Linked DNA regions of Homo sapiens: region 1 is linked to region 2. A link means that fine-mapping ties the variant in region 2 to the expression of a gene that starts in the linked region. Tissue or cell type: whole blood. Region 2 holds a variant in brackets; the other region holds the start of a gene. All regions are shown on one strand. Distances are from middle to middle. Region 1 holds the start of ERCC5 (ERCC excision repair 5, endonuclease). Region 2 overlaps BIVM-ERCC5 (BIVM-ERCC5 readthrough).

Region 1 (14,150 bases), 25 kb before region 2:
TCTTCTGCTGCCAACCTGTGACTCACAAATGACTAGGATCTCTTGTTCTTTAATTTTAGGGTCTTGTTCCAGGACTCAAATCAGTAACTTGGTGATTACAAGGTGCTGAATGTGTTGGTAACCATATCGCAATACACCTCAAGGAAAAGGTTCAGATTTTTATTTTTAAAATATTTTCATTTTTTTCTTGAATTTTATATCCGTTTGTTCACTCGTACATGCCTAGCCTACAGAAGGGGATATATATTATGAAATGGTCATTTTTCTGAAGAGAATATTTTGCTTGAAATGCAAAGGACTGAAAGAGATTTGTAGGTTGTTGATTTTGTTACTTCATACTGGAACTTTTAAAAAGATTTCATCAAATAAAGTTTTGTTTTCTACTTTTAATTATATGAATGTTTTTAAACCTTTGTTTTAGGTAGAAGGTACCATTGTGTCTTTGAAGTACATGATAATTTGTCAATTCTGCTCAACTGGTACATTGTAAGAAACCATCTTGAGCCTTTTATAATTAATGAAACAATATGCATTATGATGACTGTAATTTTAGATTTCTAATTTAATAGGAAATAGAAAATTTGATTCTTTTATTAGCTTGAACCAAATGAAGTTGTCATCTTTGTAGGTCAAAAATGGTTGAATATTAGCAATTTCATACAGTTCAACTGAATATTTCAGAGAAGACGTAGGTAGGAAGAACCAAGAGGAAAGGAGAAAAATGCAAAATAAAATAAGAAATTAAAGGATAGGGAGACACCTAGAAAAACAGGATGAGTTATTCAGACTATTGACCATAATCAATTTTTATAAAAGTCTTGATCTGTTCTAAGTTTGGCTTCCAAGTTTGGCTTTCCAGTTATTAAGAGCACAATGAGGTTTGAGTTTAGTGAGATTATCTTTCCCGCAGAAGCTGTAAGCAAGAGTTACTGCATACTTCTCTTAGAAGATTAGTAAAATTCCCTTGATATTTGATTTCTTGGTCAGCTCTTAGGAATCCTATAGATACAGTGAAAGTTCAAATACTGGCTCTGCACTTACAAGCTATATCACCTATAGTGATATAGGCAAGTTAAGGTTAATTTTTTTTCTGTGCCTATTTCCTCATTAGTAAAGTGGGGGTAATAGTATCTACTTTATAAATGAATTTGAAGAATAAGCTAATACATGTAGTGTTTAGAACAGTGCTTTGTAGATAGGAAGTGCTATTTAAGAGCTTGCTATTATTCCAAAAGATGTGAATTTTACTATTCAGAGTCTTTAGAGAGAGCCCTTTAGATAGCATCTTAAGGAGCTAATTCCTTTTAAATCACATATGCACCCCTTAGTTGCTGTTTCTTCAAAAGAATATTTCATATTCAAGAATGTTGCTTTATTTTTTTGAGACAGAGTCTCGCTCTATTGCCAAGGCTGGAGTGCAGTGGTGCTCTCTGCAACCTCCGCCTCCCGGGTTCAAGTGGTTCTCCTGCTTCAGCCTCCCGAGTAGCTGGGATTACAGGCATGCACCACCATGCCCGGCTAATTTTTGTATTTTTAGTAGAGACTGGGTTTCACCATGTTGGCCAGGGTGGTCTCGAGCTCCCGGCCTCAAGTGATCTGCCTGCCTCGGCCTCCCAAAGTGCTGGGATTACAGGCGTGAGCCACCATGCCCAGCCTTTGCTTTGGTTTTAAAAGTACTTACAATACTCAAATGCCTATGTTGGCTATTTATTTTTACCCAGCTCACAGGCAGAAAAAAAAAAGTTTATTTAGATCAAATTCTGCAGCAATTCCTTTCCCTACTGCTATTACTGTTAAAGAACTGTGTGCCATCATTAGGCCAAGTTGGTGCAGCACCCAAAATACTTGCCAACTTGTCTTCTCCCAGACTGGAGGGGCTCAGGCAGCTCTTCTAGGATCCATCACATTCTGCATCTCAACTTTACCAATAACACTCCCACCCCTCCTGTACCAGCGATTCACTCAACAAACTAAATTATACACCATTACCAGGTCAGTTCTTAAATAGCTCAGCAGCAACAAGAACAACAAGATGTTGGTCGCATTCTAATTTTACTGGCAGAAACTGAGGGTTTCATTGGTGAAGAAACCTGCCTAGGATCACAGTGTCTTAGTTTCTCAGGGCTACCATAACAAAACACCACAGACAGGGTGGCGTAAACAACAGAAATTTGTTTTCTCATGGTTCTGGAAACTAGAAGTCCAGGAGCAGGCAGGTTTGGTTTCTTCTGAGGCCTGTCTCCTTCACCTGCAGAGGGCCGCCTTCTCACTGTGTCCTCACAAGGCCTTTCCTCTGTGCCTATCATCCCTGGAGTCTCTCCCTGTGGCCCAATTTCCTCTTTCTACAAAGACACCAGTCAAATTGGATTTAGGGCCTATCCTAATGGCCTCGTTTCAATTTAATCATTTTTAAACGCTGTGTCTTCAGATAGTCACATTCTGAGGTACTCAGGCTTCCACAGATGAATTTTGGAGGACACAATTCAGACCATAACACAAGGCAACATATGGTTCAGATGAGATCTGAATGAATGATCAGCCTAACCTCCAAGCAGATTCTTTCAGCAGACTGCAAGGTGCACTGGAGAGCTTTAGACTAGAGGCTTAAGAGGTCATTTAGGCAATATTTACAGAACTGCTAAGTGCCAGGATTGGGGGATGTAGCAGTCACGAAAATCGTTCTTCGTTTCAGTAAGTTTACAGTTTACCATGGGGAAGAGACAAATACTGAACAGGCAGTTATATTACTCTCAGTAAAATAACAACTGGGAACAGTTTCTGGGGATTACTTTACATATGGAGGAAATGCAAAAAACACTTTGTCAGGATTATTCCTGTAGCAAATTAGATGTGACTAGGTCAACCAAACATGGCCACTGTGAACCATCTTATTGAGCATAGAAGTGGTTTTGCTAAAAATGGATTTCTCCACGGAGCACGGTGGCTCATGTCTGTAACTCCAGCACTTTGGGAGACTGAGGCAGGAGGATTGTTTGAGACCAGTTTGGGCAACAAAGCAAGACCCTGTCTCAAAAAAAAAAAAATCAGGGCGTGGTGGTGGGGGCCTGTAATCTCAACTACTCGGGAGGCTGAGGCAAGAGCATCACTTGAGCCTGAGAGGTGGAAGTTGCAGTAAGCTGAGACTGCACTACTGCACTCTAGCCTGGGCGACAGAGTGAGACCCTGTCAAAAAAATAAAAAATAAAAAAATAAAAAAAATCAATTTCCCGTATACTTCTGTTATAAAGAAGTCTTTAAAAAATTGCCTGCTCCCTTAAGTCAGCCTTTTCACTGAGTTTAAATTTCGTTCCAATTTGAACAAATATGGATGCTAATACTATCCTTTATAGTTACTAGTGCTAAGTGCGTTGCATGTAACACCTTGAATACTTACTGAAGTCTGCAAGGTTGGTTTTATGCCCTGATTACTGATGGAGACACAAATTCTGAACAACTGTGACTTCAGGGATGCTAAACACCATAGTGAGGCACGATGCGGGGATTTGAATCTTGGCCTGAGGGTTCCAGAGCTGTGGCCTTTTCTGGGGTTACTCTGTTAATTGATTTCTAGTCCTTTCTGATCTACAAGCCGCGGCATTATAACTTTTAGATGCTGAAGAAAACTAAACTATATGTCAAGGATTAAGGCTTGTGAACCCCCAAAATTTGGGACAGGTCTCAGTTAATTTAGAAAGTTTATTTTGCCAACGTTAAGGACGCGCAGCTGTGACACAGCCCCAGGAAGTCCAGATGACATGTGCCCAAGGTGGTTGGGGCACAGATTGGTTTTATACATTTTAGGGAGACAGGAGACATCAATCAACATATGTAAGTACACTGGTTCCTTCCAGAAAGGTGGGGACAACTCGGAAGCAGGAAGGGCTTCTAGGTCACAGGTAGATGAGAGACAAAAGGCTGCATACGAGTTTCTGATAAGCCTTTCCAAAGGAGACAATCAGAATATGCATCTATCTCAGTGAGCAGAAGGATGACTGACTAGAATGGGAGGCAGGTTTTGCCCTGAGCAGTTCCCAGCTTGACTTTTCCCTTTTGCTTAGTAATTTTGGGACCCTAACATTTTCACAGGCTTTAAATTTTATTATTCTTTAGTTACTACGTGCTAGCATATAAATAAATAGTACAAAACCAAGAAGGCATCCACCTTTTGGTTGTCTCTTCACGTGTAAAACAACACTTTGTGTTAAGTATCTTCACACACGGCGGCGCAAAGGTAGAAACCGATACTAAAAAAGCGTGTAGAAAATAGTTCCCAGCCTGGGCAACACAGGGAGACCTCATTTCTACAAAAATAATTCGCCAAGCATAGTGGTGCGCACCTGCGGTCCCAGCTACTTGAGAGGCTGAGATGGGAAAGTTGCTTGAGCTCGGGCAGCAGGAGTTCCAGGCTGCAGTGAGCTAAGAATGCGCCACTGGACTCCAGTATGGGCGACAGCGTGAGACCCTGTCTCAAACAAAAACAAAAGCCCGTTACTCCACCAAGAAGGCGCTTTTGCACATTGTTTTAATGCTTAACGCCTTCAGGATGCCAGCGTGACGGAAGCAAGTAACCACCAAGGCATCACCACTGGCGCTAAACTTCTCACTTCCGGAGTGCTGCAAGCGCAGAAAATATACGTCATGTGCGGAGGCGGAGCTTCCGCCCTGCGCGTCGTATTAGACGGAAACCGAGCGGGCCCATTTTTCATGGGTTTGCGGACCCACCAGCGAAGGCGGGAGGTGTCGCAGGGACATCTTCTGGCTGTTTCCGTCGCCTGCGTGGCCCTTGCACCCCGGTCTTCCATTAGCGGCGCAGACGTTTGGGCCTAAGCGCTGGGCGAGGCGAGGCCCTGCCCCTCCCCGCCAACGGCCATTCTCTGGACCTGTCTTTCTTCCGGGAGGCGGTGACAGCTGCTGAGACGTGTTGCAGCCAGAGTCTCTCCGCTTTAATGCGCTCCCATTAGTGCCGTCCCCCACTGGAAAACCGTGGCTTCTGTATTATTTGCCATCTTTGTTGTGTAGGAGCAGGGAGGGCTTCCTCCCGGGGTCCTAGGCGGCGGTGCAGTCCGTCGTAGAAGAATTAGAGTAGAAGTTGTCGGGGTCCGCTCTTAGGACGCAGCCGCCTCATGGGGGTCCAGGGGCTCTGGAAGCTGCTGGAGTGCTCCGGGCGGCAGGTCAGCCCCGAAGCGCTGGAAGGGAAGATCCTGGCTGTTGGTATCCTTAACGCCGCGTTGGGACTTGGGGTGCAGGGATTCGGGGCTGGATTCCTCGCGGGGCTCTGCCTTGGGCACAGTGGCATCTGCAGGATGATGGTCTTGGGTCGGGGTCGGGGTCGCTATAGAATCTCTGTCACTAGGTTTTCTAAGTACAGTCGTCCCTCGGTATCCCCGGGGCTTTGGTTCCAGCCCCTCCTCCGTATACCACGATGTTCAAGTTCCTTCAACTCCCTTATATAATGGCGTGGTATTTGCATATAAACTACCCACTTCCGTAATCTTTTAAATCGTTTCTAGCTTACTTGTAATGCCGAATGCAATGTAAGTGATCTGTAAATAGTTGTTATACTGTATTTTAAAATTTTTTGTAGTTTTTATTGGTATGTTTTATTTATTTATTTTTTTCCATCGCAAATATTTTTGATCCGTGGTAGGTTGATTGCGGAATCGGGTGATGAGGCGGGCCGCCCTGTCTGCTTTCCCCAGCTTTGCAGTCTTAGCGGCCTGTGCATCCTGGTTTGTCACTTTGTGGCAGTGCTTTATGTTCCTCTCTGCCTTAGTTCTCTCATCTGCAAAGTAGAGGTGGTGATAGTATCTACACACAGGATTGGAATGAGGAATAAAGAAATTGCCTACATGAGAGAAGTTTAGTGCGATTAATACAGTAAATCTTAAAGTTATTATCCTGTCCGGGAGGTCAGTAAGGAGAGCAGAGTAGACTTCGACGATTAGTTTTGCTTGAGTCTTGCCCCATTTATGTTTCTTAGAGGAAGGATAGTGTGGACAGGTGTTTTACCCATTTTTTAAATTGACTTTTTAAGGACTATTGTTTCTGTACATGTTTGGCTGGTTTTGTTTGTCATTGGAATTAAATTCTTTTTTCATTAGCAAAACGTGATACTGCTTTTGAAATTTTTATCTTTTTCTTTGTTATGTAGTCATTTTTTTTTTTTTTTTGAGTATCTATTCTGGCTCAGAATCTGGTGATACCTTACACCAATTTCCTAAATGGGGATCTATGAGTCTAGGGGCTCGTGGGCTTGTGGAAAGAGTCCTGTAAATGATTGCGGGGGGATTGGGGACGGGAAATGGAGTGCAAGAGTGTGTGGGCGTTCAGCAAAGGAATCCCTGACTGTGGAGCCCTAATTCTTCAGTAGGTACAAAACTTATAAATAAAACGACATTGATAAGTTTTAAAACATAATGAGATTATCATTTTTTGCAAGTGAATAATCTTTAAATAAATCTGTAATTGATTTTTGGCTTAAAAGTTTTTATACAGGGTACTTTGAATTGGGGAAAGCCAAAGGATTTTTGTTTTGTTTTGTTTTGTTTTTTGTTTTTTAGAGCACATGCGCTGTTGCTGCCCTCAAGCTGTTGCTTAGTATCATTGCAGTCTAAAGATTTTCTCAGAAATAAAGGGTAAAGGTTAGTTTTCAGTGACAAGAACCCTTAAAACTTCAGCAAAGATTTAGATCATTTTATGTAGCAGCCCTTGTGAAGAATTACTAAAGAGGACTGTGGCCAGGCTCAGTGGCTTACGCCTGTCATCCCAGCACTTTGGGAGGTCAAGGCAGGAGGATCATTTGAGCCCAGGAGTTCAAGACCAGCCTGGGCAACATAGTGAACCCCTGTCTACACACAGTCAAAAAATTAGCTGGACGTGGTGGCCTGCACCTTTGGTCCCAGCTACACGGAAGGCTGAGGCAGGAAGATTGCTTGGGCCCAGGCGGTCAAGGCTGCAATGAGCCGTGTTCATGTCTGTCTCTGAATAAATAAATAAAAAGGACTGTGAAAGACATTCTAGTCATGACAACCTCATATATTTATAATAAACTCGTTTATGTCAAAGGAGTATATCTGATTACTTGTTCTACAATCGGTTTTGCTTTATTTCATTTTCACGGGAATTCAGACACCTGAAATTATTTAGATTTTATTGTATTGTTTGTTAATGACAAACTTACCCGTTATTATACTAGTTTCATAATTTACTCTTGTATCTCTATACTAAATTGTTTGGTCTTTAAACCATCTATATAGCTTAGTGTCTTATTTATACAGTCTAAATGTCTGTGTCAAATAATGCAGAAGTAAGTTAAACTTTTGTCTCTTATAGATTTTAATGTTTGTAATATGCGTTTAAGTGTATTAGCAAGATATTACCATCTCTTTAGGCTATGTATACTAATGGAGATTTTTAAGTCACCTAACTAAAGAACTAAAGAAACTTATTTTTTGTATTGAAATGTTATTGGTCTTTGGGTCTTATACCGAAAGTGATTTTTGGCTTTGCTGCAGATTTTAACTTTTCTGTCCGCAGAAATTTAATTTTGCGTATATAAACTTACTGAAATTAGACAAGTCAAATTATACAAATATTTTCAGATTGTCTCATTTTTCATATTTCTTGTCTAACAATTTATGTGAATATTTTCAGGTCGTCTAATTTTACATATTTCATCTCTAAGAATTCAAGCCAAAATTCTCAACCCTAGCTGAGAATTGGCATTACCTGTAGTTAATTGAAAAATAAAAAATAAAAGAAGTCCTACCTCAGTCTCTATGATTTAGAATTTTAGGCCCATGGGGTTTAATAATCCGTATGTTTCAGAAGCTTCATATCCTATTCTAATGGATAGCAGGGATGAGAGCCACTGATCTGAAACTAGATTTCCTCACTGAAGTTAAAGTTTAAAGTAGTGGGCCAAGTAGAAACTAATTTAATCCTATGTAATAGTGAGCTTCATGGCTTTTCCAGACTATACTTGTAGCAAGCAGAAACATCGATCTAATACAAGACAGATGCACATCAACACCAAGTTCTACCTCTGAGATGTATCTTTTATCCGATCTCTTCTCGTGGTCTCCACCACTACTGTCTGCGTTAACTTGGGCTATTGTAACTCATTTTAGAACTGGTTTCCTTATAATCTGTTCTTCACATGTTCATCAAAGTTATCCTTAAATCATGTTCTAGAAACTTCCCAGTGGCCGTATCACCTCCTGCCATTCCTTTTGTCCTGCTGCACTGGCTTCCTGGAGATAGGGACCGTCTCTGTTTTGTTCATGGCTGAATTGTTTGGTGTATATCCCTAGGGTCTTGGATATGCCTGGCCCATGGTATTGCTAAATATTATAGAAATAAGCATAGCAGTAGCTTGCTTTCCACTAGGTATTTTGTTACATAGTGTTTTGTAAATTAATTGTTGATGGACCTACATTTTTTTTTATGTTAGTAAAAGTTAGGCAGTGTACATTCATTTAAATACTAAACTGTTCAACTTATTTAATAGCAGATATTTATTGTGTATAAGAGTCCCTGTGAAAGGGAGTGCAGTGCACAAATTGCCCGGGCAAGCCATGGAGCACACAGGCTGGGTTTTTTCCCTGCTAGATTATAAACTCCATAGGGCCAATACTGTGTTTTGTTCAGTGCACTGGATATGCCAGTGCATAGAAAAAATGCTGCCACATAATAAAAACAGAAATAACGTGATAGGTGGCCCCTTCAATGTTCTTTTCCTATGTTAGAAATTTACCTGCAAATATTAGCATCAGTCCAGGTTTCTCTCTGTTTTTTTTTTCTTTTTGTTTTTTTTTGAGACAGAGTCTCCCTCTGTTACGCAGGCTCGAGTGCAGTGGCGTGATCTTGGCTCACTGCAACCTTCGCCTCCCAGGTTCAATCGATTCTCCTGCCTCAGCCTTATAGGCACACGCCACCATGCCTGGCTAATTTTTGTATTTTTAGTAGAGACAGGATTTCACCATTTTGGCCAGGATGGTCTCGATCTCCTGACCTCAGGTGGTCTGCCCGCCTTGGCCTCCCAAAGTGCTGGGATTACAAGTGTGAGCTACCGCACTCGGCCTCAATATATTTTTTAAATAGGAATGTATACAAGGAGGATGTCTTCATCTAGACTGAGGAGGGGACCCCTGGACTGAGACCTTAGAGTAGGAGAGAACTAGGCGGAGAGAGGGAGAAACTGTTTCAGGCAGAGGAAGCAGCATGTGAGAAGAACCTGGAGGCAGGAAGGAGCTTAGTGATTTCTGGGTTTGAGGAAAGCCCAGTAGCAGGAAGTGAGCAGAGGCCAGATCATTCAAGGCTTCCTAGACCAGGAGAAGAAGTTTTAGATAGTATCTTGAAGGCAGTGGGAAGCTTTGGAGGGTTTTCACCAAAGATACGTTGGTGAAATCTAGTATATACCTTCAAGATACATTAGAAGATAGAATTGATAGACCTGGTAATAGCTATAGGTGGTGATGCCCAGCATTCTGGCTCAGGTGAATGGCAGGGACATTCACTGAGATGGGGGCATGAGCAGCTGAGTGGAGAAGACATGGAGTTCAGTTTTGATCATGTTAAGTTTGAAATGTCTATGAGGTATGGGGTAGAGACGTCATCTGGGCTCTCTGTTCTGGGGTCAGGAGCGTGCTCTGGGCCAGACATATACATGGAGTCAGGGCGTGGTGTATGTGGAGGGGAGTGGAGGTTGATAGTTCAGACAGGAGGAAAGAAGAGGGCCTGAGAAAGATCACTGATGAAGTGAATACTTTAACAGTGTTACAGGAGCTGGCAAAGAGTCTGAGAGCAGGAAAACCAGCAGAGCGCGGTGTCACTCTTTCTTTTGGACAAATATAACATTTTTTGAGAAGCACTTTTTAGAAAAGTTTAAAAATATAAGAAAACTTCAAGATGAAAATATAAGTTATCTTTAGTCTCAGCAGACATAATATCTACTTTAATATTTTGGTATGTGAACTAGTTTTTTATATTTAACATATATACTGTATCAGAAAATGGAGTTATACTTTATATGGTTTTATAGCCTGTTTTACTATCTTTAATAATATTTAATGACTATCTTCCTTATCACACATGCTCCTGCAACTTCCATTTTTAAGGGCTTTTTGGTATTCCAGCAAATAGGTCTGCCATAATTAGTTTTTCTTTTTTGAGACGGAGTCTTGCTCTGTCACCAGGCTGGAGTGCAGTGGCGCGATCTCGGCTCACTGCAACCTCTGCCTCCTGGGTTCAAGCGATTCTCCTGCCTCAGCCTCCTGAGTAGCTGGGACTACAGGTGCGCACCACCATGCCCAGCCAATTTTTGTATTTTTAGTAGAGATGGGGTTTCACCATGTTGGCCAGGATGGTCTCGATCTCTTGATCTCGTGATCCACCTGCCTCGGCCTCCCAAAGTGCTGGGATTACAGGTGTGAGCCACCGCGCCCGGCCTATGATTAGTTTTTTAAAAAGACCTGCTGGAAAACTTTTAAGTTGATTTTTATATTTTCATTATTATAAACAAGCATTCTGTAAATAACTCTCATTATATATCCATGATGATTTTCTGAGGATCAATGTCTGGAAGTGGTAAAATAGACTGCAAAGTTTTAAAAAGTTTTTTTCACTATGAATTGTCAAATTGTCCTCCAGAAAATTTGTGCTAATTCATGAAAATTCTTTAGCAATCACTTATTTTTTTTTAAAGAAGCAATTCTTTGCAATGAGACTTCTTAAAAGGATATGTCTGTCTTTGTATGATTTTAAAATGCAGTATGTGAATAGGGGTAACAAGAGTTCAACTAAAAGTTAACTGACTTTAGGTAGATCCCATGAGAGCTAAATGTTTTTCAATTTTAAATGAATAGTGATAAGTATTTAGTGTTCAACGTTTGGATAATATCAGTTATTAGGAAATTGAAGTTGTGAGGATGAAGAGAAAAATCCCGGAGTTTTTTCCATTAACAATTCTCCCAGATATTAGCATTTGGTTAAACCAAGCACTTAAAGGAGTCCGGGATCGCCATGGGAACTCAATAGAAAATCCTCATCTTCTCACTTTGTTTCATCGGCTCTGCAAACTCTTATTTTTTCGAATTCGTCCTATTTTTGTGTTTGATGGGGATGCTCCACTATTGAAGAAACAGACTTTGGTAAGTGTCGTATAGTTTTTAGTAAGTGTCAAATAATTTTTTTCTTTCTGCATTCTTAGAAAAATTCACATAAAATTTTTGTTTTCTCTTTAGAATTTTAGAAACAGACTTATTTTGACACATACTTAATTACATCTACTTTTTTATCTTGAACAATTAATTTTTCTTTTAAAAAGTTTTATGAGAGTTCATCATGGGTACAATGATAAAATTTAACTTTTAAATAAAACTAACTACTAAAAACCTTGCTGTTGAGAGTTTTCCCTTCAGAGGATCTTGTTAGGTGTTTTATATTTATTTCAAGGATGCGGCCATCACTCAGAACACTGTGGAAACCCTCTTTTGGGAAGTGCCTCCCTGAATCTGAGATCAAGTATCCTCCGTGATAGCAAGCCTTCTTTTAAGGGGAATTGGATTTTAGGAGTAAGCAATGTTATGTGGTGCCAAGTGGTGACTAAAGTGGATTATCTAGGAAGGAAATTGACCATGATATAGAAGAGTCAGAATGAGTTGCTGCTTTATTGTTCTGGAAGTAGTTTTAAAAAATGTTTTTGGAAGGCCGGGGGCAGGAGGATTGCTTGAGCCCAAGTCCAGCCTGGGCAACACAGGGAGACCCCATCTCTAAAAAAATGACATAAAATAATGTTTAAACAGTCCAAATGACAGCACCCATTTGGATATATGACTTTTATTTGTTGAAAATACCAAAGTAATGAAATGATGACTTTGTAATCATACCAGATACTCTCTAAATGAGGATATAGGATAAAAGTAAGGATATAGGATAAAAATAAAAAGCATTTATAAATGCTGGGGGACCTTTGTTGCCTCAGTAAGAGTGTCTAGTCTTGAATGTTGCAGTTTTCAGTTACCCAAGGCATACTGTAAATCAGGTACTTTGTGGAAGGATTAGAAAGGAAAAGAGAATATCTTGGTTATTTTTATCCGATATTCAGCCATAAGCACAGGGACTATCCATTTGTCACTACTTGAACATTTCTTACAAGATATTTCTATACATTTTAGAATTTCTCATGATATATAATCTTGAATATTGAAGGGCAGAATTACATGTAAGTAATGCATGTTTATAAAAAGCAATATTAGAAATTGTTTTTGGTGTCACTGTGACATTTTATAGAATAAATAAATAATTTCTTTTGGGAAGCATTTAAGCTTTCCACTTCTTGGGCATATTAAAAGACATTTAAAAGAAACTGAAAGTAAATTAAGTTTCCCAAATATATTGTGTAGTAGCCCATTAAGTAATAGATGGAAACTCTGGGTGTCCTTTACGTAGCAGCAACCTGAAGATATACACTGATATGGCAATTAGGAGGAAATGCTAAAGCAGCCATAGTCTGAAAACTCAGACAAACCAAATTCTCTGGAAAATAAATCACAGCAATGTTTCTAGTGGTCTAATATCCTGAAGTGAGATCTTACATCCTTTCTTCTCATAGGTGAAGAGAAGGCAGAGAAAGGACTTAGCGTCCAGTGACTCCAGGAAAACGACAGAGAAGCTTCTGAAAACATTTTTGAAAAGACAAGCCATCAAAACTGCCTTCAGAAGCAAAAGGCAAGAGGAAAATTATAGTCGTGTTAGAGATGAAGTTTTAAAAAAGTGATTTTTGTCTTGATTTCCTGCGATTCTCTTTCCCTATCTAATTTTGACTCTCAACAGAAAATAGAGAGTGAAATGAGACAAGTAGGCTGCCATTTTGACCTGGTAATTTGGAGTTGTGGCAATTCTCCGTTCTGTGAGAATCAACTTTGCTAATGAGAAAAAAAAGCTGTCGTGTTGCGTCATGTACACTTTTTACTTTGATTATGGTCTTCTTGACTCTAGGTGAGCAGCCCCGCCAAGGTTCCTTCCTTTCTCTCGGCTGCATTTATTTTCCACAGCAGTGGCCTGAGAGCAGCCAGGTCAGGTCCCTGTTCACCATCCTGAGCAGGGTCTGCATAATCTGTTTAAAGATTTGTGTACTTTCCAGAGATGAAGCACTACCCAGTCTTACCCAAGTTCGAAGAGAAAACGACCTCTATGTTTTGCCTCCTTTACAAGAGGAAGAAAAACACAGGTAAATGTTTAACTATTTAAGAATATTATTTTAGTCATTGCTACATTCAGACACATTTAAACCTTGATGTGTTATCTACATGATAAGGCATGTGAACATTTCTTAATGCATCTGAAATAGGCATGCTCTATACCTTTCAGAATATTTTTCAAAGACTAAATTTTTTATTTACTATTCTTTGTGTTTTGGTGATTCATGATTCTTATTCCTCTTCATTCTAAAGAACTTCTGCCAGGGCTGTGGATTCTAAATTCTCCAAGGCATGAATTTTAGTTTTGCTTACACTTTGCTTACACATGCTGTCTCTAGCTGCTTTTCAATCCAGTATGGTCTCTCTCACCATGATGCTAAAATACCACAACCCATGACATTCTTGTTGCTAAATCTAGCAGACGCTTTGCACGTCTTAGTGTGCTCGACTTCTCTGCACTAAACACCATGCCACACTGCCCCGCTCCCCCGGCATCTCTCTGGCGCTTTCTGCTCAGCCTCTCTGTGGACTCCTCTTCCTCTGTCTCTCTCTTAATGGTTGGTGGTTTCTGTGTTTGAAGTGAAGGTGGAGAACCGGAAGCTTGGCAGTTTGCCTTTGTCCCCTGTCCTTCCCTCCACCTCTTCCTTTCCCAGGAGTTCCCAAGAGACAACTTAGCTTTTGTATCAGCTCAGTTCTATTTGTCTCCATTGCTACCACTGTCATTTTTTCTCCAGGTTACATTATTAGCTTTTAAACTTCTTTCTGTCTTTGTCTTTGATCATACCCTTTTTGTAATAGTTCCTCCCACCAAGCCCAATCTCTGTTTTGTGTTATAGTCTGTTTAAAATCCAAATCTGATATTGTCATTTCCTTACTTAAAACACTTTCTAGCTTCTCCTTCTCATTTTTTTCTTTCTTTTTTTTTTGAGATGGAGTCTCTGTTGCCCA
Region 2 (15,518 bases):
TCAAGCAGAATTCCCTGAAACTTCCAAACCTCCCTCAGAACAAGGCGAAGAGGAACTGGTAGGAACTAGGGAGGGAGAAGCCCCTGCTGAGTCCGAGAGCCTCCTGAGGGACAACTCTGAGAGGGACGACGTGGATGGTGAGCCACAGGAAGCTGAGAAAGATGCGGAAGATTCGCTCCATGAATGGCAAGATATTAATTTGGTAATACCGTAACATTGTGTTTCGACTTCTTGCTGAGGAAGCCAGGTTAAGTAGGTTTTGAGTTTTAAGGAGTTGGTGGATGAGTATTTAGTAGCTATTTGCAGTACATCTTGTGGTTGCTGATGGCTTCATTTTTGTGTAGGTTACTGGCTGGGATAGACTCCGTTTTCCATGTGGTTTAGTGATGAATCTCTAAAGATATTACAGAGTCTTGGTTAGACATCCAGTGGAGTACTTCCTAAGGAGAAAGAGCTTATTGGTAATTTCAGTCAGACTAAATGCAGGCTTTTTGTAAACAAAACTCATTTGGATTATTAATATAAATCTATAAATGAAAAAACATTTTATAGGAGGAGTTGGAAACTCTGGAGAGCAACCTCTTAGCACAGCAGAATTCACTGAAAGCTCAAAAACAGCAGCAAGAACGGATCGCTGCTACTGTCACCGGACAGATGTTCCTGGAAAGCCAGGTGGGTGCAGGCAGCTTGGGTTTCCTTTACCACCTTCTTCAGACCCCTGGGGGAATGCACTGCATGAAGGGGGTATGCACTGTGCCCCCTGGTGCTCAGGGCCTGGTGATGCCGTTCCCTGGGGGTCACTGTGTGTCCCTAACTCTGCAGGAATGAATGCATTACATGAAGTGGTAGGCACTGCTCCCCCTGTGCTCAGGGCCTGGCGGTGCCCTTCCCTGGGCGTCACTGTGTACCCCTCACTCTGCAGGAACTCCTGCGCCTGTTCGGCATTCCCTACATCCAGGCTCCCATGGAAGCAGAGGCGCAGTGCGCCATCCTGGACCTGACTGATCAGACTTCCGGAACCATCACTGATGACAGTGATATCTGGCTGTTTGGAGCGCGGCATGTCTATAGAAACTTTTTTAATAAAAACAAGTTTGTAGAATATTATCAATATGTGGACTTTCACAATCAATTGGGTAAGACTTCAGAGTCTTTTTGATTACTTTCTGACATTTACCTTCAGAGTTTGTCCTAGGAAGTTTTCTTTCCAAGGAACTAGTTTGATGCATTGATGGAAATTGCAGGTCTATGCAAATTTTTATATGAGTGATCTTTGGCTTATATAGAGGAATAGGATTTTAAACATTTGAATTAAGGAATTAAAGTCCTAGTATGTTTAGGTAGTTAATCAACTGACTTAGTTAAACTTTGACTAGTTACCCGAGATCTCCACAGTGAACAAAAGGTGGTGGAGAGGGGAAGCAGGCCGCGCCTGGGCCTGTATTCGGGTTTCTGGCACTGATCTTCTTCTGTTCATCCAGCAAATATATGTTTGGTGACTCCTATATGCCAGTTGTTCTTAACAAGAGGGAAGGAACAGAGAGTAAAATAGTAGGAGAAACAGATGATAAGCAGATACATAAATCATAATTTGACAGTTGGTGGTAAGTGCCAAATAGAAAAATATAACAGTAAAGGAGAGGAGAGAGTGAACTTCAGGCATCGAGAGTGCAGGTGCTGTTTCAGAGAGTTGTTGGGAAAGGCTTTACTCGTGTAACTTCAAGGCAGGGACCTGCAGGAAATAGGAAGCAAGCACTGTAGATAGATACCTCGGGACTAGTGAGTGAAAGGGGCTGAGGCAGAAGCTTGTGGGCTGTGTTCTAGGGAAGCAAGGAGGCCAGTGTGAGAGGAGGAGGGAGGAAATGGCAAGGGTTAATCTTAGAGAATAGGAAGAAGCTGAAACCCACCAGGGTCTGGTGTGCTAGGGTATGCAGGCAGATTGAATGTGGGGTGGGAGAAGAATGAAGTCGAGGAGGATTCCAGATACTGAGCAGCTGGTCGAGTGGACCTGCCTTCAGTAAGACAAGGAGGGAGCACAGTGGAGGAGGAGAAACGAAGTGTTCAGGTTTGGATATGATAAATTGGGGATGCTCATTGGATACCCAGTGGAGGTGTTGAGTTGATAGTTGAATATATGTGACTGTGGTTCAGAGAGACTCAGGCTAGATAGCTAACTTTGGGGGTCAGCGTATAGAGGGTATTTAAAGCTATGAGAATGGATGAAACTTTAAAAATATTAACAGAATGCCATTGAATAAAATAATTTATTTTCAAATAATAAGATATTTTTGGTGGTTGGATATAGATATAGATATACACACGTACATGATTTATATAATAAAATGTTTATAAATGTCATATAAGAAATCTTGATAAAAATTAAAAAATATTGTTACTCTTTAGGATTGGACCGGAATAAGTTAATAAATTTGGCTTATTTGCTTGGAAGTGATTATACCGAAGGAATACCAACTGTGGGTTGTGTAACCGCCATGGAAATTCTCAATGAATTCCCTGGGCATGGCCTGGAACCTCTCCTAAAATTCTCGTAAGGTCTTTTATTTCTTTAATTTGGATAATTGTGTAAATACCCAAATAAGCAAATAGAACTATTATTTACAGCATGAACTGTCATGCTGTAACATGTGAACAATGGTTCACTGAGAAAGCAGCAGAAAGTATTGGTTGTTTTCCATTTTCTAGAGATGATGAAATCAGAGTCAGTTCTTAGTGGTGCTGGGCTTATCCTAGTTCAAGGGTACAAAGCCAGTCCTGTGGATTTCACAGGAATGTAGAAGTTGCCTTTTCATCCATTGACATACTTATAGAGCAGCTATGATGTGTCAGACACTGTGCTGGCCCTGGGGAAAGGAGAGATGAGTAAGGCATAGGCCATACCCTCAAGGACTCCCCCCATATACTTGGAGGTGATGGAGAAGCAAAGCAAATTGTACTTGTCTGTGTGTTTGGTGTCCTGAGAGAGGTCAGCCAGGAAGCGACTTGGAAATATAATGCCAGGAATGTTACATCCAGCACTCCTGTCCTGTTTCTCACCATGTGAATCCCGTGACGTGTTCAGTGGTGAAGTCTTGCTCCATCCAGAACCCAGAGTCGTGCTATACTCGGGGTACATTTATCATTTTGAAGATTCTGAGATGGTAGGAGTTATGAGTATGTCTGGGAAAGTAGTTTTTTCTTTGTCCTTGATGGCATCTTTTTAAAAAATTGAAATATAGTCACATACCACAGAGTTCACCGATTTAAAGTGTACAGTTCATTGGTTTTTAGTGTATTCACAAGATTGTGGTGGCATCTTTTAACCGTCACTATGTCGTGAGATGCTGTTTGGTGGTGGCTGATTTAATGATCCTTGAGTGTTCTCTCCAGTTACATATCCTGTGTTTGAAAGATGCTAGGATGCTCTGACCTGAAGAGTCAGTGACTGGAATCACTGAAATGAACGGCGAAACTGTTGTAGTGATCATGGTCTTCCAGTCATAGCACACTCACCAATGTGTTGTATTTTATACTTTCTTCATTTATCTTTTTCTGATTTTCTTATTGTTGAGGAAATTTATATACCGGGAATGAGTTATGAGGTAGACATACGTCATGGTAGGTAAATAACTTGAAAACCTACAAATAACTTTATTATACAAATAAAGTAAATACATCATAGAAAATTATAAATATGTATTAAAAAGATGATTACAGTTTACAATTTGTTTATGTAATTTTAGACTTCACACATATATATGCATATACATTGCATATATATGTATACTCATTTGAGTGTGTGTATGATTTTTTTTATAAGAATGGGATGATGCTATATACTTTTTATTTTACCTGTAACCCATTTGGTATTAGAACAAGACCTATTATCAACGATGATATAGATTTATATCGTTTTTAATGGCTACAGGTAGTATCTTTTTGCGTCTATCAGGGCTAGTTTAATCAAGTGTCTTTTGTTATTTCTATTTTTAGAAAGGTATTAACAGACATTGATTTGAGTGTCCTTAATCTTCGGGTTCTTATCTAATGATTATTTTAGAATAAGTGAAATAGTATCTGACTTTTCCATTTGGTTTCTTGATAACTATTGAGAGTGAATTTTTTATGTTCATAGACGGTTTGTGTTTCTGATTTAGTGAATGACCTGTTTATGCTGTTCCACTTTTCTTTGTTCAGCAGTTTTTGCTCGTTTGTTGCCTGCTGAATCATTTTCATATTTGAGCAGTTTCTGCCTTTGGTCCTCCAGCTCGTTGATGCCAGATAGGAGCAGCCTTCGCTCTGCCTGGCTCAGGACATTTAGGATGAATACAGAGTAAAGAGCAGGAAGGATGGTGGGAAACCAGTAAAATCAGAATGTGGCCTCACTTTGTTTTCTGTTCTCCTCTTCTGAGGGCACCCTGGCTGGTGAATCATTCTTAGAGTGGGGCTGCATTGGGCCTGCAGGTTGAATTGAGCTGTAGTCACATTTGGTTTGGACTACACGGTGTATTCTTCTCTTGAGCTTTAATTTTCAATTGGCTACCAACATTTACCTTTGGGAGATTTTACACAAAATTATGGATTCTGTTGGGGGAAAAAGGAGAGCTGAAAATACTGGGCCTGAATTTCTGGATAGCCCCAAAATAGCTGGCATGGAGCAACAGCAGTTCCCCTCCCCTACCCCAAGGCCTTGGACTGGGCATGAATCCTTCAGTTTCATCACAGTTGCCTCCACTCCCCCAGCTCAGCTGATTGACAGACACCTTCCTCCTTTCATCTTTATGTGAAGTGCCAGGCCCTCCTGCTTGAAGGAGTAACCATAGCTTTGGCTTGATGAGCTCACAAGTGCACTGATTCTAACTGCCAGTCATGATTACAGTTTCAAAAACGAAAATCTGCAAGTAAAGTAGAGGAGAATTATCGGTATTCTCTCAGTGCACTCCTGGAAAGAATGTTGTAAAAGTAATGAAGAAAAATTATTTTTTCCTTTTTGCATTTTGTTGTTATAATACTTTGAAGACCGCAATTAGTAATTTCCAACGCTAGATGGCACTCCTGCATCGGTGAGGCGGACCCTGGCCCTGACAGCCGGTCTGAGTGGGTTCCTAATGCTGCACTAGCAAGCTTGTGAAGCGGGGGAGCCTGAGCTGCGGGCGTTTTTTCAGGTTCCATTGAGTACATAGATTGGTGAGGATTATGTTAGTAACTTTGATGGCATTTATTTTTTCCTAATTGTGTAAATGTTTCTGGTCAGTCGTCACTGCATTACAAACTACCTTCAGCCTTAGTGGCTTCACACAGCAGTAGTCACTGATTTTGCTCATGCCTCTGAAGCTCGCTCAGGCCTGGTGGGGGTGTCTTGTCTCTGTTCCATGTCGGCTAGGACAGCTCAGCTGGGCTAGGACCCCTTAAGATGGCTCGCGGGGCTGATGAGGTGGCTTCGGCCTCGGGGCCTGGGTGGACACTTGGTGAGCTTGGCTTCCTCATAGCATGTTGGAGCCAAGAGCAGGAGGTCCAGGGGACAGGAAGTGGCGAGGGCCTCCCCTAGGCCTGGCACGGCTTGAGTCACACTGGTCAGCCATGGCCGCCCTGCTCAAGAGGAGGCCACAGGGACCCCCTTCGTGATGGGAGGAGGGTCCAAGAGTGTGTCGCTGTCTTTATCCGGCCGATTTAGGCTTAGAATGGAAAACATTGAAAAATGAATAAAATATAAAGAAGAAAATGAATGGCTGTGTGCTCACGTAGAATATTGCCTAGCACACAGCGAAATAATAGTTGTTAGTGTTATTTATTTTAAGTATCTGTTTACTTTTCTCATATATGTGTTTTTTCCAAAACTGGAATCATACTTTAAGTAGAGTTCTATTATCTCTGTTTTTGTATATATTTATTTGTTTTACATACATATGTATTTATATATATATAAAATGTTAAATTTTAAAAACAGATACATGTATCTGTTTTTACAGATTTTTTAAACAAATTTAACATTTTCTTGGCATATTTACATTTTATTAAATATTCTTCGATCCATTATTGTATTTGATTTGAGGTAAATAATACAGATACATTACTTCCATTTTACTGCTGAGAAAGAGACCCAGAGAAGTTGTAACTTCTGTGGTATAATTATGAGTGTGGGCTCTAGAGGAAGACTGTACCAATTCCAGCTGTGAAATCTTGAGCCAGTTACTTATTTTTGAGTTCAGTTCCCTCCTCTGTGAGGTGAGGGTAACGATAGGGCATGGCTTGTGTGATGATTGGGCATGTGAAATATTTAACACAGTGCCAAGCACAGAGGAAGACTTCCATAAATGTTTGCCATCATTATACATTGTGGCTAATAGTACTAAAATTAATAAAATATTCTATATAGCATACAATTTGAGTTAGAACTTGAGTTTACATGTTCTAAGTTTAGTTCTTCATCCATAGTGTATGAACTATAATGTCTCATTGCTGTGTAAGTAATTGTTTCCTTTATTTTACAGAGAATGGTGGCATGAAGCTCAAAAAAATCCAAAGATAAGACCTAATCCTCATGACACCAAAGTGAAAAAAAAATTACGGACATTGCAACTCACCCCTGGCTTTCCTAACCCAGCTGTTGCCGAGGCCTACCTCAAACCCGTGGTGGATGACTCGAAGGGATCCTTTCTGTGGGGGAAACCTGATCTCGACAAAATTAGAGAATATCCTTTGCTTCTTAAAAGAGAAGGAAACACCTTGTCAAATATGTGTTTGGTTTAAAACTTATGGAAGAGAAACTTGGATCATTTTTTTCTTATATCCCGTTAATCCCATTTTCTTAATATCCCGCTCTCCTTTTCACTCTTTCTTCCCTCTCCTCAGTTGTTGTTTTTTGTTTGTTTGTTTGTTTTAAAGGAACAGTGTATCACTCTGTCACCCAGCCTGGAGTGCAGTGGTGCAATCATAGCTCACTGCAGCCACCACTTCCTGGGCTCAAGGAATCCTCCTGCCTCAGCCTCCTAAGTAGCACAAGCCACTGCATCTGGCCCCTCTCCTTAGTTTTAAAGAGGGTCTTTGTTTGAATAAGCAGTGATAAGCATTCATAGATATAACCACATACTTAAATATTATTGATTCTGAAAGAAGGAAAGATGACTAATCTTGTCCTTTTTATTACTGGTTGTCCTTTCCGTGTATATTTAAGTAATCATTTGGATAGATGTTTCAAAACTTGCACTAGAATTAATCCAACTACGTTTGATTTTTTCTCTTAATGAAATAGGCAAGATATCTGAAACTTGTTTTTATTCCAGTTAACCTTTTTTCATAGTCACAAGTCTTTGATGTCCTAAAGTGAGAGCTAAATATGTTTTATTTTATAGAATTGAAAAGAACATAGTGCCAGATGATTATGCTGGAGTCATTTATTTTGTTAGTACTTTCTTTTAGCACTCTAATCTTTATAAATAGGAAAATCTTAGGAGATACAGGGAATGGAATCAAGAATGGGTTCTTTGGACCTTTTTATTTGTCACTTGTTTAAATATCTTTCAAAATATTTATAAGTCTTAACTGCATGCATATTTTGTCAGCGGTATTTCGGCTGGAACAGAACGAAGACAGATGAATCTCTGTTTCCTGTATTAAAGCAACTCGATGCCCAGCAGGTAATCATGGTGGACCCTTCTCCTAAGTTCAGGATGAAGGGTAGGCTGTGGTTGACAGCTGTTAAAGACCAGTTAACTCTTATTTTGGGGCATAGAGCAGACATTTTGAAATTAGGATAATTTAGATGAGAGAATAGAAGAAAATAGAAAAAGAAAAGTTAGACTTTGGCTTCATTTTCTATGATCACTCTTAGGGCTGAACTTTGGAGTCCTTTCATATTCATTTTTTTCTTTGAAAAAACCAGTCTAATAACTGATTTCACACTAAGGTGTTTCTGATTAAATACATTACCCCTTGGGATTTACTTTCATTTTTTAACGAAAGGAAGTCTTCAAAGCAATTCTGATCATTTAAGTTTTTATAAGTACTAATATTTTTAAATTCTATAAACGAATCTTGAAAGGTAGAAGTTCAGTCATTATTGTGTATCAGTAGGAGAGGTTTTTGTGGGAAGGAGCCCTTTTGTATGACCTTTAGTTCCTCTAGGTACCTACTTCTTGCTTTATCTGTGAGTATGTTCTGACTCACACAAAACAAGCTTTCGCCCACACTAGAAACAACCCACAAAACATACATACAAATAAACCACTTAGCAGAAATGAGAATGTAGCTTTTGTGATAATATATTTAAATTAAACCCATTTTCATTAGGCTTGGATAATTTTGAAAAACATGAACAAAACTAAGACAGCATTTCTATGAGTTTCTCTTTGTTTTTTGGATGACTATCTACTGGAAACATTATAAACCAACCAAAAAGGAAAGCTATTTGTCTTAGTGTCTGGTGATTTCTTAATTTCAGATAAATTTTGTTGTAATATTTATCTCCTTTTTCATTCTAAAACTTAATGTGTTTATTTTTCCAAAATTAGAAAATGAAGAAAATGAATTAAAACTACTCATTAGTTACCTCCTCTAATACAGTTGTTAACATTTAGGTTAAAAAATTTTCCTGCATTTATTTGTGGCCATACTAAATGTAACTTAATAGATCTAATCCTCCCCCCCAACTTATTAGCATATTTTCTTCTATGTATTGTGTGGTTTTCTTAATTCCAGATGACTAGATTATATTTCATGAAAGATATTTAAATAATTAGTTCAGTTTACTTGTTAGACCTTTAATTTTCAAGTTTGTTATAGTAATGCTGTGATGAACATTAGGCATATAGCTTTACCCATATATTTTTTTTTTGAGACGGAGTCTCACTCTGTCTCCCAGGCTGGAGTGCAGTGGTGAGAACTCGGCTCACTGCAAGCTCCGCCTCCCGGGTTCACGCCATTCTCCTGCCTCAGCCTCCCGAGTAGCTGGGACTACAGGCGCCCGCCACCACGCCTGGCTAATGTTTTGTATTTTTTTAGTAGAGACGGGGTTTCACCGTGTAAGCCAGAATGGTCTCGATCTGA[C/A]CTCGTGATCCACCCACCTCGGCCTCCCAGAGTGCTGGGGTTACAGGCGTGAGCCACCATGCCCGGCCAAAGAATATCTTCTTAAAAGTGAATTTACTGAATAAAAGGCATGAATATTTCTTACAGTTGCTAATATATACTGTGAACTTGCCTCTCAAAGGTATTGTATGATGATAATGTTTTTAAAAGAAAGATATAGTAGGACTTAGAAACAGGCCCCATGAAGTCGTGTTGCTCCTGAGGAAGATGAAATGTTTAGCTACAGAAAAATATTTAACGCTCTTTGAATATCTTAGGAAGAGATTTCTCATTTGAGATGTGGACTAAAGACTTAGTTGACAGAGATGGTACAAGTACTGCTTTAGGTATGATTTAGAAAGTGAAAATTACTGTCAGTAATTCACTGGGAGAGAACTGGGTTTTGGGAGATAATGAATTAATATTCTCTGACATAGTAATCCAATGTGAGTGATCAAGGTTGAGCTTGTTGATTTGGTTTAGAAACTTGACTTACTTGTCTGATTTATTATTATTATTCTTTTGTTATTTTTTTAGACACAGCTCCGAATTGATTCCTTCTTTAGATTAGCACAACAGGAGAAAGAAGATGCTAAACGTATTAAGAGCCAGAGACTAAACAGAGCTGTGACATGTATGCTAAGGAAAGAGAAAGAAGCAGCAGCCAGCGAAATAGAAGCAGTTTCTGTTGCCATGGAGAAAGAATTTGAGCTACTTGATAAGGCAAAAGGAAAAACCCAGAAGAGAGGCATAACAAATACCTTAGAAGAGTCATCAAGCCTGAAAAGAAAGAGGCTTTCAGATTCTAAAGGAAAGAATACATGCGGTGGATTTTTGGGGGAGACCTGCCTCTCAGAATCATCTGATGGATCTTCAAGTGAAGATGCTGAAAGTTCATCTTTAATGAATGTACAAAGGAGAACAGCTGCGAAAGAGCCAAAAACCAGTGCTTCAGATTCGCAGAACTCAGTGAAGGAAGCTCCCGTGAAGAATGGAGGTGCGACCACCAGCAGCTCTAGTGATAGTGATGACGATGGAGGGAAAGAGAAGATGGTCCTCGTGACCGCCAGATCTGTGTTTGGGAAGAAAAGAAGGAAACTAAGACGTGCGAGGGGAAGAAAAAGGAAAACCTAATTAAAAAATATGTATCCTCTATAATTAGTTATGACAGCCATTTGTAATGAATTTGTCGCAAAGACGTAATAAAATTAACTGGTGGCACGGTCTTTGTATTTAGTGTGTGGTTCCTAAAAACAAATGCTAAATCTGACATTTGTTTTTTAATGTTTTACTTTTCTAGTATTTTTTAGCTGAATATTTCAAGTATCATTGGATATTATCTTGTATTCACAGGCTTTGTCTTTTCATGTTTTCATTATCTTAACAATGTCTGATCCTTCCTGGTCACATGTTAAAAAAGCGAAAAAGATTTCTATTGATCAGCACTCACTCTCAATAGGCTTTCCCTCTGACATTCAGACGTAGCTGAGAAGAAATACGTGCATGTTTCTAATTCCACAATAGTGGCAGTTTTACACAACTGTTTAGCCCTGCTGCCCACGGCTTTGCATTTTCCCTCAGGTTCCACTTAAAAGCATAGCAGGAGGGAGCCTCACTGCTGGAACATATTTCAATATGTTTGCTGTGGTTTTAGCAAACAATTAGGAAACCTAAATGGGGTGCATCATTCTACCTGTGAACATTAAGTGTATGGGAACCTCTGTACCGTTATGTTTGGCTTTTAAACCAGACTTCACTTATTAGAAGCTGACTTCTGTGTAAATGGATTTGGAGGCTGGGGGCTGGAGTTGAACTGGTGTAGGTGGGTCAGCTTTAGGAGTGGCCTGCAGGGGATGATTGTTGTTGACACAGTGTTTGTTCAGAGTGGACAAAGAAGGTTATTTTAAGACTGCTCCTGTGGAGACGTCTCCCAAGAACAACCCCCAAGCTCCTATTTGCTTCGAGTTAAGAATGATTGGAGGAGAGTACTACCAATTACTTTGAGCGTGGGTCCTCTGCCTTCAGAGCTACCTTCCCAAGTCTGTGTCCTTTTGGCATCTTTAGTATTTCCATCTTTCCTGACTTTTTCCTTCAGCCTTCAAATTGAAAATCTTCACCAATGAAAACAAAATCCAAATAGATAATCTCCAGCAGTCTTTGAACGACTCCTAGATGTGTTGTTTTTTAGGCTCTCATTTATATTGACTTGGCCAGCCAAACTTCTCCAGTACTTGGACTACAGCAGCTGCTTTTCTTTGCACACTATTTTTTCCTAATTTCAAATACGTCTTCTGCATCCATCATTCTTCTCTAGCAGCTCCTTCTAAAGTCAACAATGATTTCCACATAAACTCAAATCTTTTCTTCATGCTTCTTTTCTCTGGAGGTACTTGGAGCAGAACATTTTTGGAGGCAAGGGGAGGGGAAAATTAACTTTTTCGTGTTTTTCTCATTTCTCAGAATTACTTGTCACTGGGAGTTTTCTGCATATATATTTGCAGGTAGAATAATTGTCTTGCTAACAAATTTAATTTGATGCCTTTAATAGATATTTACATTTGTTTTTCACTGCGTTAGCTTTGGGAAAGGATAAGCTACTGTAACAAAAGATGCTCATATACAGTGGTCTGAATAAGCTAGAACATTACTTCTCTCTTACTCAACAGTCTGGCCAGTCTGAGCTGGTGAAGCAGTTGTGCACCATGAGGTCATGCAGTCCTGTGTTCAGCCAACCCCTAGGGTGCTATCTTGCCTGAGTGGTCTATACTGGGTGATTACTTCATCTGCATTGCATCCTGCCAGAAGGGGAAAGAACCAAAGTCCAGGGCAAGCAGAAGGGGAAATGGATGGTCAGGACCATGAGAAACCTGTTCTGTAACACTATTTATATGAGAGTTTGATATTGTATCTTCTTTTTCTCTTAACCCTGTGACCAAGACATAATGCTTTTACAAGGGGAGAAACACGTTTAGAGACATTAACCAGTTTTGCCAAATTCACCCATGTAGTAGGTAAAACTTCTCACCTGAACCAAAATCTTCTAACTCAAAATTCCAGGGTGCTATTTTACCTATGAAAGAGGTTGCCTGTTTAAAATAATCAGCAGCTGAACAAATTCTTTATTATTCACATCAAGTTGGTGTACCTAGAGCTTATTTAGGATGATGACCATCATACGCCTTTTCGATTATCTTCCAGCTCATTAATATTTTGTTTAGCTTTATCTATACTTGCTGTTAAACCCATATATTGAGTATTTTATTTCATTGATTGTTATTTTTCAGTTTTATTTGACTCTTTTTTTTTTTCAATTTGACTCATTTTTATAGATTCCAGTTCCCTGGTGTACTTCTTGTCATCTGTTTTTGAGTATCTTAATCACAGTTACTTTAAAGTCTGTCGAATAACTCCAATATCTAAGTCACCTATGAGTTTATTTCTATTGTCTGTTTCTTGGTATGCATGGGTAAATTTTAACTGAATGTTGGACAGTCTATGGGAAAAATTATAGGTACCCTGTACCTTCCTCTAGAGAGGATTCCAGAATGTATTTGGACAGGCAGCAGAGGGGAAGATCACCTCAGTGCAGCCAGCGAGGACAAAGTAGATTGAAGGCTAGTTTGCAGTTTTTTCTGTAAGACTCCAGCTTCTAGTTTCACCCGTATTCCAGGAAAGTCACTTTCCAGGAGTGCCCTGATGTTTCTTCTTTTGCGCTTGGATCTGCTTTTGCCACTGAATGCTTCAAAAATTAGCCTCTTGCCCTAAACAGCTTAATCAGTCAATTCTTCGACTGAATAGTCAGCACTAAGCGTCAGGCTTCTCTCTCCCTTTTTTCTGGGATCTTGGGCCCACAAATCTGACTGTCTTGGCAGCCACACTCTTCTTTTGTCTCCACAGTTCTGTGAGATTGCCTGATGCTCCGCTGCTATCCTTACATGCGGTCTTCTCTTTGGCTTCCTCAGGAAACAGCAATGCCTGGAATTCTTGGCTGCCTTGACAGCTCTCTGATACTTTATAACAGAGGCATGTTTGTGTGGGGTGTGTGTGTGTGTTTAAAAATCTATTTTTCTCATTGTTAATAGAAGCTGAGGTTTGCTATAAGCTACTTACAGCTGGAGGCAGAAGTCTGTATGTATTTGTTAAACAGTCATGTTGGTTAAGATGCTTGATTGAGGGATTCTGCCTCTTAAGAGATCTAACAGTGAGGATTGCATGATCTTTCAAAAAAATCCTTAAAAAAGACAATGGTTTTTATTCGTCATTTATTTTGTTTTTAAAAAAGCCCCAAAGAAAGAGTATCCTCTGCCCCAAGTTAACTGCCTATGAATAATAGTTCACATTGCTTAGGATTTTGAACTTTCCAGAATGTTTTTACCTATAATATTCACCCCACAAATATATGTTGTATGACTTTTGTATCATTTTTAAAAGACATTTATATTTTTTTGAGATAGGGTCTTGCTCTGCTACCCAGGCGGGAGTTTGGTGGTGTGACCACGGCTCACTGCAGCCTCCATTTCCTGGGCTGAGTGGTCCTCCTGCCTTGGTCTCCCAAAGGCTAAGGCACCCTGCCGATATATACTTGTTCTATAGATGATGAAACCAAGAAACATACTAAGTAAATGGCTTAAAATCACAATCTAATTATAGGCAGGAATAACTAAAATCAGGCTTCCCAACTCCTAGCCCTTTCCAATACATTAAAGTGACCTCGATTCATCTGTGTATACATTATGGACCTGTAGTCACACTCCTAAGTTTAACTTTCCAATATTGCTTTATCTTAACTCTGTAACTTTCTATCAGGGATCTTTCCAGTGGCATGGGAAATGTGTATGTCCTCTGAGAGGCACACATACATGCACTTGGGCAGGTGCACAGATGGATCTATGTTCGGAGCCTGCCCATTCAGTCTGAATAAAAAGGAATCATGGTAGTTTGATTTCTGGGTGCAGAGCAATGCTACAGACATTCTAGTATGGTTGTTGGAGTCTAAAGACAGTGTTCCCATGCAGATAGGTGACATGAAAAATATGTAGCGTTCATTTCCTAGAATGTCATAGCCACGGAGTCTTAGAATAACTCTTGGCATCCAAGTTAAAAGCTGGATCACTTCCTCCAAATAGTCTTCACTCACTTCCGGGAGTGGGTTGTATTCACCTTTAGCTCTGTTCACGAGACACTCGTGGGATATTCCTAGCCTTCTGCCCCCTTAGTTACGGGCATTGCCGTCTCACTGCTGTATAACCAGAGGCGTGGGAGCTGCAGCTGTCAGAATCCTAATCCCTTCTGCCTGGACTCGTTACCAGTGGTAGCGAGTGTGTATAGTAGTAAACTGTGCTGCGATGCTAGCCTTTCAGTCACTACCAGAGGTCCCAGCAGCAAAAACAAAAATTGTGGATGATACATTTTAACCTTCTAGAAACTCAGCTAACTCCTTTAGGTATGTCCAGGCTTTCCATTTAAATATCAGCCTTAAGGCAGACATGTCTTTCTTTAATGGAAGAGATCTAAATTGGGAGCAAAACATGTGACCACTTTTGCTATCGTTTTAGCTGTGTAGCCTCAATGACATAATTTAACCTTGGTTTTCCTGATTTGCAAACTGTAGGGAAAATAATGTCTTCTAACTTGCTGAAGTATGCTGTAAAAGAAAATGTGGTGGCTGTAAAATGTGCTTTGGGATTCTCGGAAGAAAGGAGTGCTATATTAATTCATGGTACTGCAATTGTTATTTTACCCCAGATTGAGAAGTAAAATATCAAATCGTTATTTTCTAAAGTTTGAATAACTGTTAAATTTATTCAGATAATCTGCTCTATTCAAGAGGCATAAATAGTTTCTTCAGTTTTAAATATATCGGCTGTGATGGTATGGACTCCTTAAGGTAGACGCTGCTCAAAAGATTATCTGGCAATGAGGCTGTTTGACATTGCATAGGTGCTAATGATGCATTGATGGTAACAAGTGAACTTTCAATGTTTTAATCGCCTCTTAAATTTTAGGATTGCAGTCTTACTAGTCAATATGAAGATGATGCCTTTCTTTGTTACAACTGAGGTAGTCTCTGGTGAAGAATATGTTTTCTTTCTGTAGTAGCTTTTTAAAATTTCTGACTCAGAAGCTTTTGTTCTGATTTTAATTTGTTCTAGATAGTGTTTAGATGGTCTTTCTTAAGTCACGCTTCGTTAATATATGATATTTTAATATAATTTTGTCTGCTGTATTTGAAGTTAAGCTTTATTAAGAAACTATAAAAGCACTCCATACATATTTTGAATTATTACCATTTGATATTTTAATGTATTATCTATCTAGTTTTCAAGAAATAATGAAGAAAACATCAATATATCACCTACCATCATTTCATTACTTGATGGATTCAGAAGCTCAAGAAGGTAAGTCATTTTATGTTTATGTAGCTTACCAATTCTAAGAAGACAAATAACTAATAGAAT

What was found. PIP is the estimated chance that this variant, and not a neighbour inherited with it, causes the effect.
Region 1: it holds the start of ERCC5, and the variant in region 2 is fine-mapped to the expression of ERCC5 in whole blood (TOPMed, PIP above 0.99).

Annotation. Positions count from the first base shown.
Region 1 is chr13:102,841,144-102,855,293 of GRCh38, forward strand. It overlaps ERCC5 (ERCC excision repair 5, endonuclease), which reads left to right and starts at 4,889. Exons shown (of 15, transcript NM_000123.4): 1 at 4,889-5,211; 2 at 10,975-11,150; 3 at 12,614-12,729; 4 at 13,145-13,231. The coding sequence starts at 5,124. It overlaps BIVM (basic, immunoglobulin-like variable motif containing), which reads left to right. Exons shown (of 11, transcript NM_017693.4): 11 at 1-390. BIVM-ERCC5 (BIVM-ERCC5 readthrough) reads left to right here. Exons shown (of 23, transcript NM_001204425.2): 10 at 10,975-11,150; 11 at 12,614-12,729; 12 at 13,145-13,231. RefSeq lists enhancers at 3,819-4,643, 4,228-4,277, 4,488-5,277, 4,644-5,466 and a silencer at 5,628-5,677.
Region 2 is chr13:102,865,710-102,881,227 of GRCh38, forward strand. BIVM-ERCC5 (BIVM-ERCC5 readthrough) reads left to right here. Exons shown (of 23, transcript NM_001204425.2): 17 at 1-202; 18 at 553-672; 19 at 923-1,136; 20 at 2,404-2,548; 21 at 6,489-6,689; 22 at 7,550-7,634; 23 at 9,598-10,286. The coding sequence ends at 10,194. ERCC5 (ERCC excision repair 5, endonuclease) reads left to right here. Exons shown (of 15, transcript NM_000123.4): 9 at 1-202; 10 at 553-672; 11 at 923-1,136; 12 at 2,404-2,548; 13 at 6,489-6,689; 14 at 7,550-7,634; 15 at 9,598-10,286. The coding sequence ends at 10,194. It also overlaps the pseudogene METTL21EP. Among named protein-coding and RNA genes, the nearest start is that of ERCC5, 27 kb to the left of the region's middle. RefSeq lists an enhancer at 1-1,178. The variant C/A (reference allele first, on the strand shown) is at 9,043.